2 separate regions of the Homo sapiens genome follow, and region 1 is linked to region 2. The links come from fine-mapping of genetic effects on plasma protein levels. Region 2 holds a variant in brackets. A gene starts in the other region. All regions are shown on their reverse strands.

Region 1 (8,264 bases), not on the chromosome of region 2:
GTACCAGTGGCCACCACGCTCAGCCCGCCCACAGCACAGACGCACAGGCTGCCCAAGGGCTACTGTCAGCTCCTGCTCTTGCTGCTCCAGGCTGGGAGCCAGGCAGGGCTCTGTGGGCAGAGGGCAGAGGTCAGCAGACCCCGCAGCCCCATCTGAGGCAGCCTCCTGTGTACAAAGAACACACCGCACATGCAGGGCACAAGCACTTTGCAACGCATGCTGAAGGAGCCACCACTCCTTGACACCCACACAGCCACATGCTGCGGATGCCACACCCAGGGCAAATGCCACACTCTTGGGGCATGTCACACACACAGCATTTAGTGCACACGACAGTGGCCAAGACACACACACACACACACACGCATACACACACACACATACGGACACACACACACACAAGGCACATGCTGTTGGTGCCACATACAGGGTCATGCTGCACCGGGGCATATCACCCTCATAATGCTTATACCACACATGCTGCCTGGACCTCCTAGGTCACACACCCAGTGCACAGAACACACACACACACGCACACACACCCAGGTAAGGAGCTCACCACCAGCTCTGCAGCCCAGCTTAGGGCCCTGCGCCCTGCAAGGCCAGTCCTCTCTCGCAGACACAGTGATAGATGAATGCTTGCTGGAAGCCAGGCACTGACTGAGTCTCAGTGGTTGAGCCCTGCCCTGCCGCCACCTTCTCAGGGCCTGGGCAAGGATCCTTTCCAGCTTTGCTCAGCCCAGCAGCCCCCTCCTGGTGCCCACTCTTCCCACCCCTGCCACCCTCTCCCACCTCAGAAGCCATACCAAGCTCCACTTCCTCAGAGGCCTCCAGGGACAAGACTGGAGGCCCAGGCACACTCAGCAGGACCCCCAACAGGGCCAGCAGCAGCCGCATCTCCTTCTCACAGCTCTCAGGGACCCAAGCTGGACTTCCCACCAACTGCCTTCCTAAAATAGGGAGGGAAAAGAGCTCCTGCTACACGTGCACCTTTGTGGGGGCTTTTCCCTTATTTTGCAGATAAGGAAACTGAGACAGGAAGTGGCCAGCAGATGTGTCCAAGTCCCTGGCCAGGCTGTGGCAGTGCAGACTGGAACCAGCTCTGTAGTAGCCAGAGCCTAAGGCCTCCCCACGGTAGGTTGTGCAAGGGGTCTGGGCTGGGCTTCCTGCTCTCCCTGAGTCCTGCTGGGACCCTGGCACACGTTCACAGAAAGCAGTTTTGGGATTCTTTTTTGGAGGGAAGCAGAGAACGGAGACATATCTTCTGCATGCTCTCGGCACACATAATTTCTTTTTTGCTAAATAAATGAATTGATTGCAGAAGAGCCAAAAAAGAAAGTGAAAAATGACACAAGGTCAAACTTCAGCATCTGGATGGCATCTGATCCGATCCCCACTCCTTACAGCATTACTGACATTTCCAGGGCTGGGTGGTCACAACTGACAAGGCGGCCCCTTCCGTGGCAAGCAGGACCGCGACCCTGGATACCTCTGCTTGTTATGCACCAACTCCATCTGAGGCACACACGGTTTTGTAAAGAATACAGACCCTAATTTTCCATCTGCCAGAGCCAAGTTCAAATCCTGACTCTCACCAACTTGTAATTCCTTGTCTCTGTCTCTCTCTGGCTTACTATCCTCATAGGACTGTTTTGAGGATAAAAGAGAGAACGTGCGTCGGCACGCAGAGTGTTGGAATGTTCTCCTCCCTGTGCCCGGCCCTAGAACGGTTAACCTGTTGCCCTGGGTCTGCCCTTAGCCAGTCACCTCTGGTTCGGATGCTGTTACTGTCAGGCTGTGATGTACACACACCCCAGCTGGCTATCCTCTTCCAAATGCTACCAAGGACGCCTCTGTTCCCCAAAATAGAACACTCAGAACTGAGTCTCAGCTGGGACAAAGGAATCGGTGACCACTGCAGTCCTAGGGGCCTATGGGTGGCACTGGTGTCTCTGGATCTACCCTGCGTGGGAAGCCTATCACACCTCCTCCTCCTTGGTCACTGCCACTCCACTTCCAGTCCATCTGGCTTCCCCTGCCCCTTCTCAAGGCAGGTCATGGCCATCTCTTGCATGGGCCTCTGGAAACATCCTCTCCCTCGGCTCTTCAACCTTCATCTTCCAGCAGAGTTTTAAAAAACTACAAGTCGGCTGGGCGCGATGGTTCACACCTGTAATCCCAGCACTTTGGGAGGCCGAGGTGGGCGGATCACGAGGTCAGGAGATCGAGAACATCCTGGCTAACACGGTGAAACCCCGTCTCTACTAAAAATACAAAAAATTAGCCGGGCGCGGTGGCGGGCGCCTGTAGTCCCAGCTACTCGGGAGGCTGAGGCAGGAGAATGGCGCGAACCCGGGAGGCGGAGCTTGCAGTGAGCCGAGATCGCGCCACTGCACTCCAGCCTGGGCGACAGAGTGAGACTCCGTCTCAAAAAAAACAAAATAAAAAAATAAAATAAAATAAAAAAACAAACAAAAAAACCTGCAAGTCTGCCATGTCATGCCCCCCAGCTTGCAAGCCCTTAATGGCTACCTGTGCCCAGCAGGATCCAGCTCAACATCCTAGGGCTCCCTCTCTGCCGCTGCCTATCTCTTTGGTCACACCGTCTGCCCCTTCAGGAGCGCTGAAGCCATTGGCTTTCAAAACTGGGCACATGTGCTCTCTTGCCCATCCCTCTGTGCCCCTCATTGCTCTTCTCTACCTGACTCAGATACTGCTGTCTCTGGCCCACCTCAACTCTCGAATCCAGTCGGATCCTCCTTGGTAAAACTCCCTACCAAGCTCGGCTTGGCAGGGAGGGCAGCTCTTTGGGTACACAGCTTGGGCTGGGAGTGGGTGGGGAGGCCCGGGGAGTTTATTCCTACCCCAGGCTGCCCTGATATCAGAGTCCTTAGTCGAGTCACCCATGGCTGCTGACCGCTGACCGACCACCCCCCACGTGGGAATGGAGGGCCTGCCTTAGGCATCAGACAGTCCTGGGTTCTCCTTCAGCCTCCCGCACTCGCGCTGGAGGCCCCCGGGCACTAAGTGACTGAACTTTTCGGGGCCTCAGGTCCCTCATCTCTGCCGCCGGCGCGAAGACAGCCGCAGGGACAAGCGCGCTTGTCCTCCCCCACCCTTGCCGGGCCAGCCTGGGGGGAGGTGCGAATCAATGGGTCCCGAGGGTAGCTGCACAGGGCCAGCCTGCCCCCGCCTCGGTGGGCAATGAGTAACCAGCTCCGCGGCCGGGGTGCTCTTTGGACGGAGCGGGACAAAAGGCCCTGTGTGCACTGCGGGTTACTGATTTACCGCCCCCTCCACCCCCTGCCGCCCGGCGGACGCCCAGGTCCCCTGCGCCGGGAGGGGCAGTCCCCGTAGCCCCGCCGCCTCTCGCCCCCTGGCGGCTGGGAGCGCAGCCCGGGCCCACAAGGGTTCCGGCTCACCTCGAGCCTGCGTGACTCCGCGCCCAGCACAGGGTCCTGCTCACCTGGCTCCTCCTCACCTGGCTCCTCCGCCGCCTCACTCCCAGCTCCAGCCGGCCGCGACCCCTGCACGCGGCAGGGTCCGCAGACAGCCCGAGCGCTCCTCGGCCGGGAGCGAGGAATGTACCCGCGACGGCGGCGTGGCCGCGAGCGGCCCACCTCCTGTCCCACCCCGCCCCTCGGGCCCGCCCCCTCCTGCTCGGGCCCGCCCCTCCTTCCACGCCCCCCCCCCCCCCACCCGGGCCCGCCCACCTCCTGCCACACCCCCTCGGGCCCGCCCCGCCTAGACCAGCTCGAGCCGGAGAGAGGTGTGGCCAGGGGTGGCCAAGATCCCCGCCCACCTGGAGAGCCCCGCCCCCGACCCAGTCAGCCCACTCCCGGGACCCCGCCCCAGCCTATACACACACCCCTACACGCAACCCCCCTATACACACCCCATTCAGGCTCCGCCTCTTTCGCCCCACCCAGGCCCCAGGCCAGGCTCCTAAATTCTAGTCTACTACCCAGCTCTACTCCTTGCTTTTCACCCTTCAGGGAATGCCTGGCTCCCCTGTCTTCTGCGCAGTGCCGTGCAGCGGATAGGAGAACCCCTTCCTTCTGCTCCCTCATTTGTTCCCTGCGCAACCTGCGGAGTGATACTTACAACACAAATCTGACTGTGTCAGCCACTCCCTTAAATTTTCCTATAGATTCCCATAGCTCTTTATACATAGATTGCCATGACCCACGCCTCCTGGCTCCCACCCTGCTACTCCTGGGCAGTTTCACGTACCATTCTCTCTTCCTGGAATGGCCCTTGGTCTGGTTAATTTCATATTATTCTCAGCTCACTTCCTTCAGGAAGCCCTCTGGACTTGCAAGCTCCTCTTAGATGACGTCTCTACTGTGAGGATGGAGAAAGAAACAGGGTGAAGTGGTTCAGAGCACAGACTACAGGGCTGGACGTCATAGGCCCAGCTCTCAGCACCATCACACAAGGCCTCAGTCTTCACTGTCCTTTCAGTAAAACAGGCAAATGATAGTCTCACCCACAAGAGGTTGTTGCAAAAAGTAGACATGTTAGCAGTATGTGTAAGCCTGGCATGCAGCGCTTGCTTTGTAATACTAGCTGTAATTATTTAGGACCTGTTATTTCTTCAGCACGCTTGCCAGAATTGTAACTGAACAGTTAATTATGTAAATAGCTGTGGAATGGCCGGGCACAATGACGGGTGCCTGTAGTTCTAGTTACTAGGAGACTGAGGTAGGAGGACAGCTTGAATTCAGGAGTGTGAGGCCAGCCCTGGCAACATAGTTGCCCTGTCTCTATTTTTCAGTAGAGGAACTGTGTCCTCAGACCTCACCATTAGAGTTCAAGTGTCTGGCATACAGTAGGTGCTCCCAGATAGCTCCGTGCCCACCTGGCTCATGTTTGCCTCACCTGTAAGCACTTCTCTCCTGAGCATCTAGACTGTGGCCAAACCAGGAGGCCAGGCAGCCTCTGATCTCTGCCCATCCCTCACCTGAATCTCAAGCCTTCTCCTTCTCTTAAGGCACCTTGAGAGGAAGGGAAATGGGCTGGGTGCACCTGTGGTCCCAGCTACTTGGGAGGCTGAGGCCAGAGGATTGCTTGAGCCCAGGAAGTCGAGGCAGCAGTGAGCCGTGATCGCTCCACTGCACTGTAGCCTGGGCAACAGGCTATGGAGCGAGACCCTGTCTGAGGCTCAGGTCCTGGTTGTCCCCTCTAGCTAGTGTAGACCCTGTCTTAAGAAGCAACTTCCTTTCTCATTGTTACGCAGGCAAGTCTAGTTCTTTCCACCCTCACTCCCAAAGGGATAGTGGCATATCTTTGCATAACTGTAAGGCCCATTAAAGAGACTTAAAATTGTTTTTTTCTTTTTCTTCTTAAGCGAAAGAATGGTCTCCTCCCAAAGATAAATCAGAAAATAATTGAGGCCAGGCATGGTGGCTCATGCCTATAATCCCAGCACTGTGGGAGGCTGAATCGGGAGGATCGCTTGAACTCAGGAGTTCGAGGCCAGCCTGGGCAACATAGTGAGATCTCGTCTCTATTAAAAATATATATTAGGCTGGGCACGGTGGCTCACGCCTGTAATCTCAGCACTTTGGGAGGCTTAGGTGGGTGGATCACGAGGTCAGGAGTTCAAGACCAACCTGGCAAGATGGTGAAACCCCAGCTCTACTAAAAATACAAAAAAATTAGCCAGGCATGGTGGCATGTGCCTGTAATCTCAGCTACTAGGGAGGCTGAGGCAGAGAATTGCTTGAACCCGGGAGGTGGAGGTTGCAGTGAGCCGAGATCGTGCCATTGCACTCCAGACTGGGTGACAGAGTGAGACTTTGTCTCCAAAAAAAAAAAAAAATATATATATATATATATATGTGTGTGTGTGTGTGTGTGTGTGTGTCTGTGTGTGTCTGTGTGTCTGTGTGTATATACATACACACAGACACACCCACACATATATATGTATATTATAAATTTTTTTTTAATTGGTTATCTTTTAAAAACAATTTGTCCTGGTTCCCTTCTCTAGAGTCCTGCCTTGCTGGAGCTCCCAGGACAGATGAGGCTCCTGGCCCTGGGAGCTGCCTGCCCAGAGGGTACCTTGCCAGACCTCCCGGACTGCTGGAGGGGTTCAGCTCCCTGCCTCTGGCCCTCTGCTGGCTCCCCTTGTGAATGTGGTTGTGGGGGGAGACAGGGTGAGCCGCCAGCTGGAGCTGGACCCCACATGGCTTTCATTCACCTTCCCGGGCATTTCCTGAGTTTACCAGAGCCAAAGACAAACTAAAAGTTTTCATAGCTCAGGTCTTGCAACCTCCTTGTCTCCTGAGATGCGCAAATCCCTCAGATTTGCAACCCTCTGATGTCCCTAGGATATGTTCCCCATATCCCTTGTCTGCCTCCTCTCCCCGCACTCATAACCTTTCACACTGACCCTCCACAGAGGCTGATGCTCCCTCACAAAGTCATTCACTCATTCACTCATTCATCTGAATGATTATTTATTGAAGGTTCATTATGTGGCATCCACTGTTTTAAATCCTGGGGATAAAGCCCCGAATTGGACTCTTTTTCTTTTCTTTTCTTTGGGAGACAGTGTCTTGCTCTGTTGTCCAGGCTGGAGTGCAGTGGTGTGATCTTAGTTCACTGCAAGCTCTGCCTCCTGGGTTCAAGTGATTCTCCTGCCTCAGGCTCCTGAGTAGCTGGGATTACAAATGTGCACTACTACACCTGGCTAATTTTTATATTTTTAGTAGAGACAAGGTTTCACCATATTGACCAGGCTAGTCTCAAACTCCTGACCTCAAGTTATCTGCCCATGTCAGCCTCCTCAAATGCTGGGATTACAGATGTGAGCCACCTCACCTGGCCTGGACCCTACTTCTACCCTTCAAGGGGCTGCTGACATTGTAGTGGGGACAGACAGATAAGTAATCAGTTACAGCCTGGGAGATAAGCTGAGCCAGTCAGGGAGAGCACCTAAGCCTTTCACACTGTCTCACTCTCTTGCTGACACGCAATCTTTCACCAGTCACATTTGCAGTCTCTTTCTCAAAGACATTCAGACACGACTGGGCACAGTGGCTCACTCCTGTAATCCCAGCACTTTGGGAGTCTGAGGTGGGCGGATCACTTGAGGTCAGGAGTTCGAGACCACCCTGGCCAACATGGTAAAACCCCATCTCTACTAAAAATACAAAAATTGGCCAGGCATGGTGGCACACGCTTGTAATCCCAGCTACTGGGGTGGCTGAGGCAGGAGAATCACTTGAACCTGGGAGGCAGATGTTGCATTGAACCAAGATCACGCACTGCACTCTAGCCTGGGAAACAGAGCAAGACCCTGTCTCAAAAAAAAAAAAAAATACATTCAGACACACACACACACACACACACACACTCTCTCTCTCTCTCTCTCTCGCTTAGCAGAGGCAAGAGCCTGTCACCCTAAGATCCTGCTGTTAACCTGCCTCTGCCTCAGTTTCCCCACCCAGAAAGCCGTCATGCTCCAGCTTCCTCTTCTTCCTTTTTTTTTTTTTTTTTTTGTGGAGATGGAGCCTCGCTCTATTGCCCAGGCTGGAGTGCAGTGGCGTGATCTTGGCTCACTGCAACCTCCGCCTCCCAGGCTCAAGCAATTCTCCTGCCTCTCCTGCCTCAGCCTTCCTAGTAGCCGGGACTACAGGCGCCTGCCACCACACCCAGCTAATTTTTGTATTTTTGTAGAGACGGGGTTTCACCATGTTGGCCAGGCTGGTCTCGATCTCCTGACCTCAGGTGATCCACCCGTCTCGGCCTCCCAAAGTGCTGGCATTACAGGCGTGAGCAACGGCTCCCGGCTGCTCCAGCTTCTTTCTTCCTAGGAGTGTTGGGGGAAATGAACGTGTTCCTGTTCCTGAGCTCGTGACTCTTCAGCTCCCGTTACATGCCAGGCATCATGCTGGGTGTTGTACATGGGTTATATCCTTTAATTCTTCCACCAAGCCAAATGGCATAGGAATCCTTAGCTCTGATTTGTAGGTGAAGAAACAAGCTCAGGGAGATGGAATTACTTATTTGAGGTCATCTAGCAAGTGAATTGCAGAACTCGAACCCCTGTCTTCTGGGGCAAAGATGGAGAGCTCGGGATAACTCTCCAGAGTGGGATCATTGATGCTACTGCATCAGATGCTTTCTGTCTCCATCCTTAACTGTGGCCCGGGAAGGTGCAGATTCACCTGAAGGTGAGTGTGTTGGGGAGGGAGGTGTGGGGGCTGGGACTGAGCACTGCACTCCTTGACCTTTTAGCCAGCAGTCCTGAG
Region 2 (8,327 bases):
CAGGTGAGCACCACCATGCCCAGTTAATTTTTGTATTTTTAGTAGAGGTGGGGCTCCACCATGTTGGCCAGGCTGGTCTCGAACTCCTGACCTCAGGTGATCCACACACCTCGGCCTCCCAAAGTGCTGGGATTACAGGCGTGAGCCACTGCACCCGGCCCCCACTATTTGTGTGTTTCTAAAACAAATGCACAGACTCATTATCTTTAGCACACAGAGCCTGCTTTCAGTTTTGTTCCTTAGCTTTTCTTTTGCTCACTGGAGATATTTTATATCAGAATAAACTATCTGAAACTGCCTTTTACGTAGGTCAAAGACAAGCAGATATGAACAATGGATTCAAACCAGATCGATCCTGTGGACCCTGAAAATATTCCATAAACCCTGTTAGATGGGGAAAGTAGGCATTGAGGTAAGGGGTGAGGATTCTGAAACGTGCCATCCTGCTTTATGCAAGAAAAAACAATTTAAATAAATTCCTGGAAGATTTTCTGGAGAAATAAATTCCTTGAGGTATACCTCTGTCCACTTGTCCTTACTCAATTTTCATTGGAAGATTCTGGTACCATTTAGCACCCAGGTATTCCCAAGGATCCTTAAGAATGCTTTCCTCGGGCCGGGCATGGTGGCTCATGCCTGTAATCCCAGCACTTTGGGAGGCCGAGGCGGGCGGATCACCTGAGGTCGGGAGTTCCAGACCAGCCTGATCAACATGGAGAAACCCCATCTCTACTAAAAATACAAAATTAGCCGGTCGTGGTGGCGCATGCCTATAATCCCAGCTACTCGGAAGGCCGAGGCAGGAGAATCGCTTGAACCCAGGAGGCGGAGGTTGCAGTGATGCAGTGAGCTGAGATCGTGACATTGCACTCCAGCCTAGGCAACAAGAGTGAAACTCCGTTTCAAAAAAAAAGGAATGCTTTCCTCTTGGTTGGTGGTTGGGTGGGTGGCTCACATCTGTAATCCCAACACTTTGGGAGGCCAAGGTGGGAAGATTGCTTGAGCTCAGGAATTCGAGATCAGCCTGGTCAACATGACGAAACCCCGTATCTACAAAAAAAAAAAAAAAAAAATACAAAAATTAGCCAGGCATGGTGATACGTGCCTGTAGTCCCAGCTACTCAGGAAGCTGAGGTTGGAAGATCATTTGAGCCAGGGAGGCGGAGGTTGCAGTGAGCTGAGATGGCACCTCTGCACTCCAGCCTGGGGGACAGAGTGACACCCTGACTCAGGGGAAAAAAAAAAAAAACTTTCCAACCGGGAGCAGTGGCTCATGCCTGTAATCTCAGCTCTTTGGGAGGCTGAGGTGGGCAGATCACTTGAGGTCAGGAGTTTGATTTGAGACCAGCTTGGCCAACATGGTGAAACCTCTTCTCTACTAAAAAAAAATATAAAAATTAGCTGGACTTGGTGGCATGCGCCTGTAGTCCCAGCTACTCAGGAGCCTGAGCCAGGAGAATCACTTGAACCCAGGAGGCGGAGGTTGCAGCGAGCCTAGATTGAGTCGCTGTACTCCAGCCTGGGTGACAGAGCAAGACTCTGTCTCAAAAAAAAAAAAAAAAAAAAAAAAATTTCCTCTCAGAGAAGTATTCAGAATGTAGCCTCTTTCCTTGTCTCCAACCTGAGATTGCAACTTCTGGAAGAATCAGAGGGGCCTGGGACAGACACTACCTTAAATGGTTTCAGCTATTCTTTCCGGGTTTTTCTGGGGCTAGAATCACGACAGAAATTCTTGAGAACCGCTTTTTTTTTTTTCTAATTAGAAACAAAAGCAGTCATAAATTACTAGGATTCAAAGGAGGGAATTCTTTGTTTTTTTCTAACCAGTCACTTAATCCCTTGGTAGCCTTAGAGCTATCATTCATGGAAGACCCAGTGATCAGCACCTCCCTTCAGGCCTATTGTGCACCTCTCTATGCAAACTGGAAAGCACTGAGCCCGTGTAGCCTGGATTGTGAGCCTTAAACTTGTTGCTTTGCAAATTTAATGTCTTGCTTTTGCAGACACTAAATTTCAGTGATTATATGAAAGATGACCTAAGTCGTGATAAAAATCTTGGTTACATCAGCCTTTGAATGAGAAACAGTAGAGCTCAGAAGACATATCTTTGCAGTAGCTTTCCATGCAGGTTTTCTGGATATACATATGGATGTGTTGTCAAGGTGACCTTCACGTTCCACAGTGTCTCTTTCACCTTTGCTGCTATTTGCCTAGGCTATCAAGGTATCTAGGGTTATCTTTGCTCTGGGCTGAAGACAGCCTCTTCATTCTCATGTAGAGAATGTGGGGGAGGTCCTCTGTGCAGTACTTTTGGTTATAACTTGATCCTATTTGCCAAGTAACAAGGTAAAAAATTTTGCTCCAAGATCGTGAGTTTGCCATATCCATCTATGTGTGTTCTTTGGTTGGGCACTCATAAAGGAGATCTGTTGGGAAAATTAAAATGAGGTTAGTAGGGGAGTGCAACCTGGGCCCTGCAACCTTGCACAACAGCCATTCTACACTTTTCCAAGGTCACCCTCTAATTTGTACAAAGCCATCTACCTCTGTAATGATTGATTTAAGGGAGCTTCAACCTTTGTTCTTTAGATTCAGTAGCTTAAAGGGAAAGTCAGCTTCTTTTTCTTTTGGAGCCAGCTATCAGGCCCTAATGTCATTGAGAGACAACCAGGACCTAATATCTCATTCTGTTCTCTCCTCCAGTTTAATGTGGCAGCATTTTTTGATGCCCCTGGAAGTCCAGACTCAGATAAATTCTGTGGATGATAGGAAACAAATAAGATAGTAGGCACAACTTTAGAAATAGATGAAGAAGGGATTAGGAGCCAGAGGAAGACATGACAGGACACTGTTGGAAAGATGGGTTGAAGACAGATGAGCAAGCCAAACACATCACACCAGTGTATTCAAGGAACCCTCAGTCATTTGTCAAAAGTTCCATTTCCAAATCTGTGCATGAGTTTGGTCACATTTTGGCTGAAATATGTTCATGTGTACTATAAAAGTGTCTGTTGTTTAAGCTATTTAATAGACTATTAAATAACAATGGTTAAAGAAAGTTTATTTAAAAACTCCACAAGCATAACAAAATAGGTTTATATTTCTGTGTTCCCACCCAGGCTTTCCAAACATATTTCCCAGCTAAAATCACTTTAAGACCGGGTGCCATGGCTCATGCCTGTAATCCCAGCACTTTGGGAGGTGGAGGTGGGTGGGATCACCTGAGATCAGGAGTTTGAGACCAGCCTGGCCAACATGGTGGGACCCTGTCTCTACTAAAAATACAAAAATTAGCCGGTCATGGTGGCGGGCACCTGTAGTCCCAGCTACTCGGGAGGCTGAGGCAGGAGAATGGCTTGAACCCTGGGAGGCAGAGGTTGCAGTGAGCCGAGATCACGCCACTGCGCTTCAGCCTGGGCAACAAGAGCAAAACTCCATCTTGAAATAATTAAACTAATAAATAAATAAAAATTTAAGAAATAAAATCACTTTAAACATCTTCCACGCTGTTTTTGGTTTTCAGAATATCTTAGTATAATAATGATTTACTTAGCTATCTCTGTCTTTTGATAAAAATTTATTTTTCTTCGTTCTTTTGTTCTTTCTCTTTTCCTGTCATAAATGTTTCAATAGCTAACTTTGGGCATATAACCTTTAATTTATTTGAATCATTGCCTTTCATTAATGCCAGGAATGGACTACCTATTTCTTTTCTTTCATTCTTTTTTTTTTTTTTGAGACGTAGTTTCACTCTTGTTGCCTAGGCTGGAGTGCAATGGTGTGATCTCAGCTCACTGCAACCTCCACCTCCTGGGTTGAAGCGATTCTTCTGCCTCAGCCTCCTGAGTAACTGGGATTACAGGCACCCATCACCACACCCAGCTAATTTTTTGTATTTTTAGTAGAGACG[G/A]GGTTTCACCATGTTGGCCAAGCTGGTCTTGAACTCCTGACCTCAGGTGATCCGCCTGCCTTGGCCTCTCAAAATGCTGGGGTTACAGGCGTGAGCCACCCGGCCTGGACTACCTATTTCTAAAATTGTTTTAAATATTCCCAAATCGCTTTCCATACATTTTGTCCACTGGTGTGAGTGTTCTGTGACCATGGGATATAAAACATTGACAGCTCTATTAGGGGATAAATGGCATTTGAGAATGATATAAAGGTGCTACTCATCTACCTGGTACTATACGGGAAATAACATTGGTCTTGAAAGCAGGAGACCTGGGCTCTTGTATTAGCTCTGCTGACTCATCAGCTTTACGATCTTGGACAGATCATTTCACTGTCAAAGACCTGTTTTTCCCTTCATTCTACTGAGCTAAAAATAAACACCCTAGAGAATTTTCGTGAACGTCAAATGAGGCAATAATATCTGTGAAGACCCTGTGAAAATGACACAAACGTAAATTTGAAGTACTTTGAAAGAGCAAGCTGAAAATAATTTAACTTGGTCTAGAAAATCGTAATGGAGACTGTGTGGACGTGAAGAGTGTTCTGCAAATAGCTCCCAAGCCTTTACTTGCCAAGGCTCGTGGCTGAACATGTTTGCCCTCATTTATTGTTTGCAGCTTCCTGAGTTTTACTCGTTGTCCTTTTGGGATTAATTTCAATTTGATTCATCTTTTCATCTGCTTAGCCCTTCTCTATTTTGGTATCAAGTTGATTTTTTTTTTTTTTTTTTTGAGACAGAGTCTCCCTCTGTCACCCAGGCTGGAGTGCAGTGGCTCGGTCTTGGCTCACTGCAGCCTCTGCCTCCTGGGTTAAAGTGATTCTTCTGCCTCAGCCTCCTGAGTAGCTGGGACTACAGGTACCTGCCACCACGCCCAGCTAATTTTTGTATTTTTAGTAGAGACAGGGTTTCACCCTGTTGGCCAGGCTGGTCTTGAACTCCTGACCTCAAGCAATCTGCCTGCCTTGGCCTCCCAAAGTGCTGGGATTACAGGCATGAACCACCGCGTCCGGCCTCAAGCTGATTTTTTAATTTGTTTGTTTTGTAAAGACAACCTCTCACTATGTTGCTCAGGCTGGTATCGAACTCCTGGCCTCAAGCAATCCGCCAGCCTAAGTCTCTGTCTCTGTGCCAGCCTACTATCAACTTTTATGTTAATTACCAAATGCTGCTCTTCCAGATTGTTTAACATTCATTCATTCATCCATGCTGCAGTCTACAAATATTTATTGGATGCTGTGGCTCACATCTGTACTCTCAGCACTTTGGGAGGCTGAGGTGGGAGGATCACTTGAGGCCAGGAGTTCAAGACCAGACTGGGCAATATAGTGAGACTCTCTTTCTCTACTAAAAATTAAGAAAATGAGCCAGGCATGGTGGCATGCCTGTAGTCCCAGCTACTCAGGAGGATTAGATGGAAGGATTGCTTGAGCACAGGAGGTCAAGGCTGCAATGAGCTATGATCATGCCACTGCACTCCAGCCCAGGCAACAGAGCAAGACCCCGTCTCTTAAAAAAAAAAAAATTATTGGATGCTTAAGGTATGTGACCTTTACTGTTCATTGCTAAAAAATTATAAAATTATGTGACAATTATTTCTTTAATTATATTATGTGACTATTTTTTTAAAAAGTTTTTGGCAATCTTGAAACTCTTTTGCAATCATTATTTTACCTTTGCTTTTCTTAGGAAAGAATTTAAATATTAACAAAAGTTACAGCCTTTCATAAAGAAAATATTCACCATCCTATTTTTAATGGTCCAAATTTCATGGCCCTTTTTTTTTTTTTTTTTTTTTTTTTAGATAGGAGTCTTGCTCTGTCACCCAGCTGGAGTGTAGTGGCGCGATCTCAGTTCATTGCAACCTTCTTCTCCCTGGTTCAAGCCATTCTTCTGCCTCAGCCTCCTGAGTAGCTGGGACTATAAGCATGCACCACCACACCTGGCTAATTTTTTTTTTTTTTGAGATGGAGTCTCGCTCTGTCGCCTAGGCTGGAGACCAGTGTCACAATCTCGGCTCACTGCAACATCCACCTCCCAGGTTCACGCCATTCTCCTGCCTCAGCCTCCTGAGTAGCTGGGACTACAGGTGCCCGACACCACGCCTGGCTGATTTTCTGTATTTTTATTAGAGATGGTGTTTCACCATGTTAGCCAGGATGGTCTCAATCTCCTGACATAGTGATCCGCCCGCCTCGGCCTCCCAAAGTGCTGGGATTACAGGTGTGAGCCAAGCGCCCGGCCTAGTTTTTGTGTTTTTAGTAGAGACGGGGTTTCACCATGTTGGCCAGGCTGGTCTCAAGCTCCTGACCTCAAGTAATCCGCCCGCCTCAGCCTCCCAAAGTGCTGACATTACAGGCATGAGCCACTGCGCCTGGCCCAAATTCATGTTTTCTATAGTTGAAATAACTCAGTATTACATTTTAATGAATTTCTCCCTATTCTTTTTCAATCATTATATTTTCAAATTTTCTGGCCAGATGTGGTGGCTCATGCCTATAATCCTGGCACTTTGGGAGGCCAAGGAGGATGGATTGCTTGAGCCCAGGAGTTTTAAGACCAGCCTGGGCAACATGGCAAAACTCTATCTCTACAAAAAATACAAAAATTAGCTGGGCATGGTGGCATGTGCCTGTAGTCCCAGCTACTCAAGAGGCTGAGGTGGGAGGATCACTTGAGTCCAGCAGGTCAAGGCTGTAGTGAGCTGTGTTTGAGCTGTGTTCACACCACTGCACTCCAGCCCGGGTGACAGAGCAAGGCCTTGTCTTAAAAAAAAATTATTCTAACAAATTATTGATTATTCTCAGTTTGTATTGTCTCAGAATTTTCCTGAAGGAATGTAAAAACTAAACTCTAGCATATTTGTTCCTTTAAAACAAATGTCCTGTTAAAGAATTCTGATTTCAATGATAATATTACTAAATTAGACTAGTGGCTGAGCCAGAATCTATACCTGGCAACACAAAAGGAAAAAAGTCTAGAATAAAGTTCATAATTTGATTAAATGAAGCATCTAGTTTCCCTCTATTAGAAATTGGAAGAAATCAGCATTAGTAAATTAGTGCTTTAGTGAAGTTCTCTTTGCCGGAGGAGAGCATTTGCATGCCATCTTTGTAGAGGGTGTAATGATATTTAAGGCTTTTTGTTAGTGATCCTGATAGTAATTTTTTCATGCAAAAGGACTATATCTCATGGTATAACTGAAGCTAAAATGGTCTGGGTTGGTGACTTGAAGCCTTTCCTCAGGATTTGGGAATACAGATAGTCAACATATAAACCACCATGGAGGCCTGGCACAGTAGCTCTCACCTGTAATCCCAGCACTTTGGGAGGCCGAGGCGGGTGGATCACTTGAGGTCAGGAATTCGAGAACAGCCTGGCCAACATGGTGAAACCCCATCTCTATTAAAAATACAAAAATTAGCCAGGCGTGGTGGCACATGCCTGTAGTCCCAGCTACCAGGGAGGCTGAAACAGAATCGCTTGAACCCGGGATGCAAAGGTTGCAGTGAGCCGAGATAGCGCCACTGCACTCCAGCCTGGGCAACAGTGCGAAGCTCCATCTCAAAAAAAGAAAAAGAAAAAGAAACCACCATGGAGATTACAAATTATTATAATAATAAAAACAAGGGCCATCACGTGTAGAGCCTGCAGCAAAGCCAGATTTACTGTGAGCCTAATGAAGCTTTAGCTTCAGGTCGCCTTGCTTACCTACGTCCCTAGAAATGCCCTGGGTGGGTCAGGGAGCCTAGTTGCAATTGGAAGCATTTCTAGGTGAGCAGTTCTTGCAAATTCCCTAAAGAGACTTTAGAAAAAAAGGACTCTAAGGCTATAGTAATTTATTGTGCTAGGCGTGGTAGCTCATGTCTGTAATCCCAGCACTTTGGGAAGCCAAGGCTGGTGGATCACTTGAGCCCAGGAGTTCGAGACCGGCCTGGCCAACATGGCAAAACCTCGTCTCTACAAAAAATACAAAAATTAGCTGGGTATGGTGGTGTGCACCTGTAATCCCAGCTACTCAGGAGGCTGAGGTGGGAGGATCACCTGAGCCCACGGAGGTTGAGGCTGCAATGAGCCGTGATTGTGCCACTGCACTCCAGCTTGGGTGACAGAATGAGACCTGTCTCAAAAACAAAAACAAAAACAAAAAATAACTATCATAATTTATTGTGATGTTTTTCTCATTCTAAATAAATGCTCATTTATTTATTTTTGCAGAGACAGGGTCTCACTATGTTGCCCAGGCTGGTCTCAAACTCAAGCAATCCTCCTGCCTTGGCCTCCCAAAGTGCCTGAGCTACTGTACCTGGCCAGATATTTACTTTTGTACTGATTTTTGTCTCCCTTTAAAATTTTTTTTATTTTAAAAAAAAGATCC

Alleles and levels. Alleles are on the strand shown, and positions count from the first base shown. The strength of an association depends on the size of the effect and on how common the allele is.
For the plasma level of the protein whose gene starts at base 3,585 in region 1, allele G in region 2 goes with a lower level than allele A (moderate association).

What was found. PIP is the chance, under the fine-mapping model, that this variant and not a neighbour inherited with it causes the effect. The UK Biobank Pharma Proteomics Project read protein levels with antibody pairs (Olink). The fine-mapping took linkage between variants from a reference panel, not from the people measured, so its PIPs are less certain.
Region 1: it holds the start of FGFR4, and the variant in region 2 is fine-mapped to the plasma level of the FGFR4 protein (UK Biobank, PIP 0.99).

Annotation. Positions count from the first base shown.
Region 1 is chr5:177,082,236-177,090,499 of GRCh38, reverse strand. It overlaps FGFR4 (fibroblast growth factor receptor 4), which reads right to left and starts at 3,585. Exons shown (of 18, transcript NM_213647.3): 1 at 3,423-3,585; 2 at 807-950; 3 at 1-110. The coding sequence starts at 897. RefSeq lists an enhancer at 3,069-3,519, silencers at 3,215-3,674, 3,925-3,974 and a promoter at 3,485-3,704.
Region 2 is chr4:39,423,838-39,432,164 of GRCh38, reverse strand. All of the region lies in intron 1 of KLB (klotho beta), which reads right to left. Among named protein-coding and RNA genes, the nearest start is that of MIR5591, 16 kb to the right of the region's middle. The variant G/A (reference allele first, on the strand shown) is at 3,911.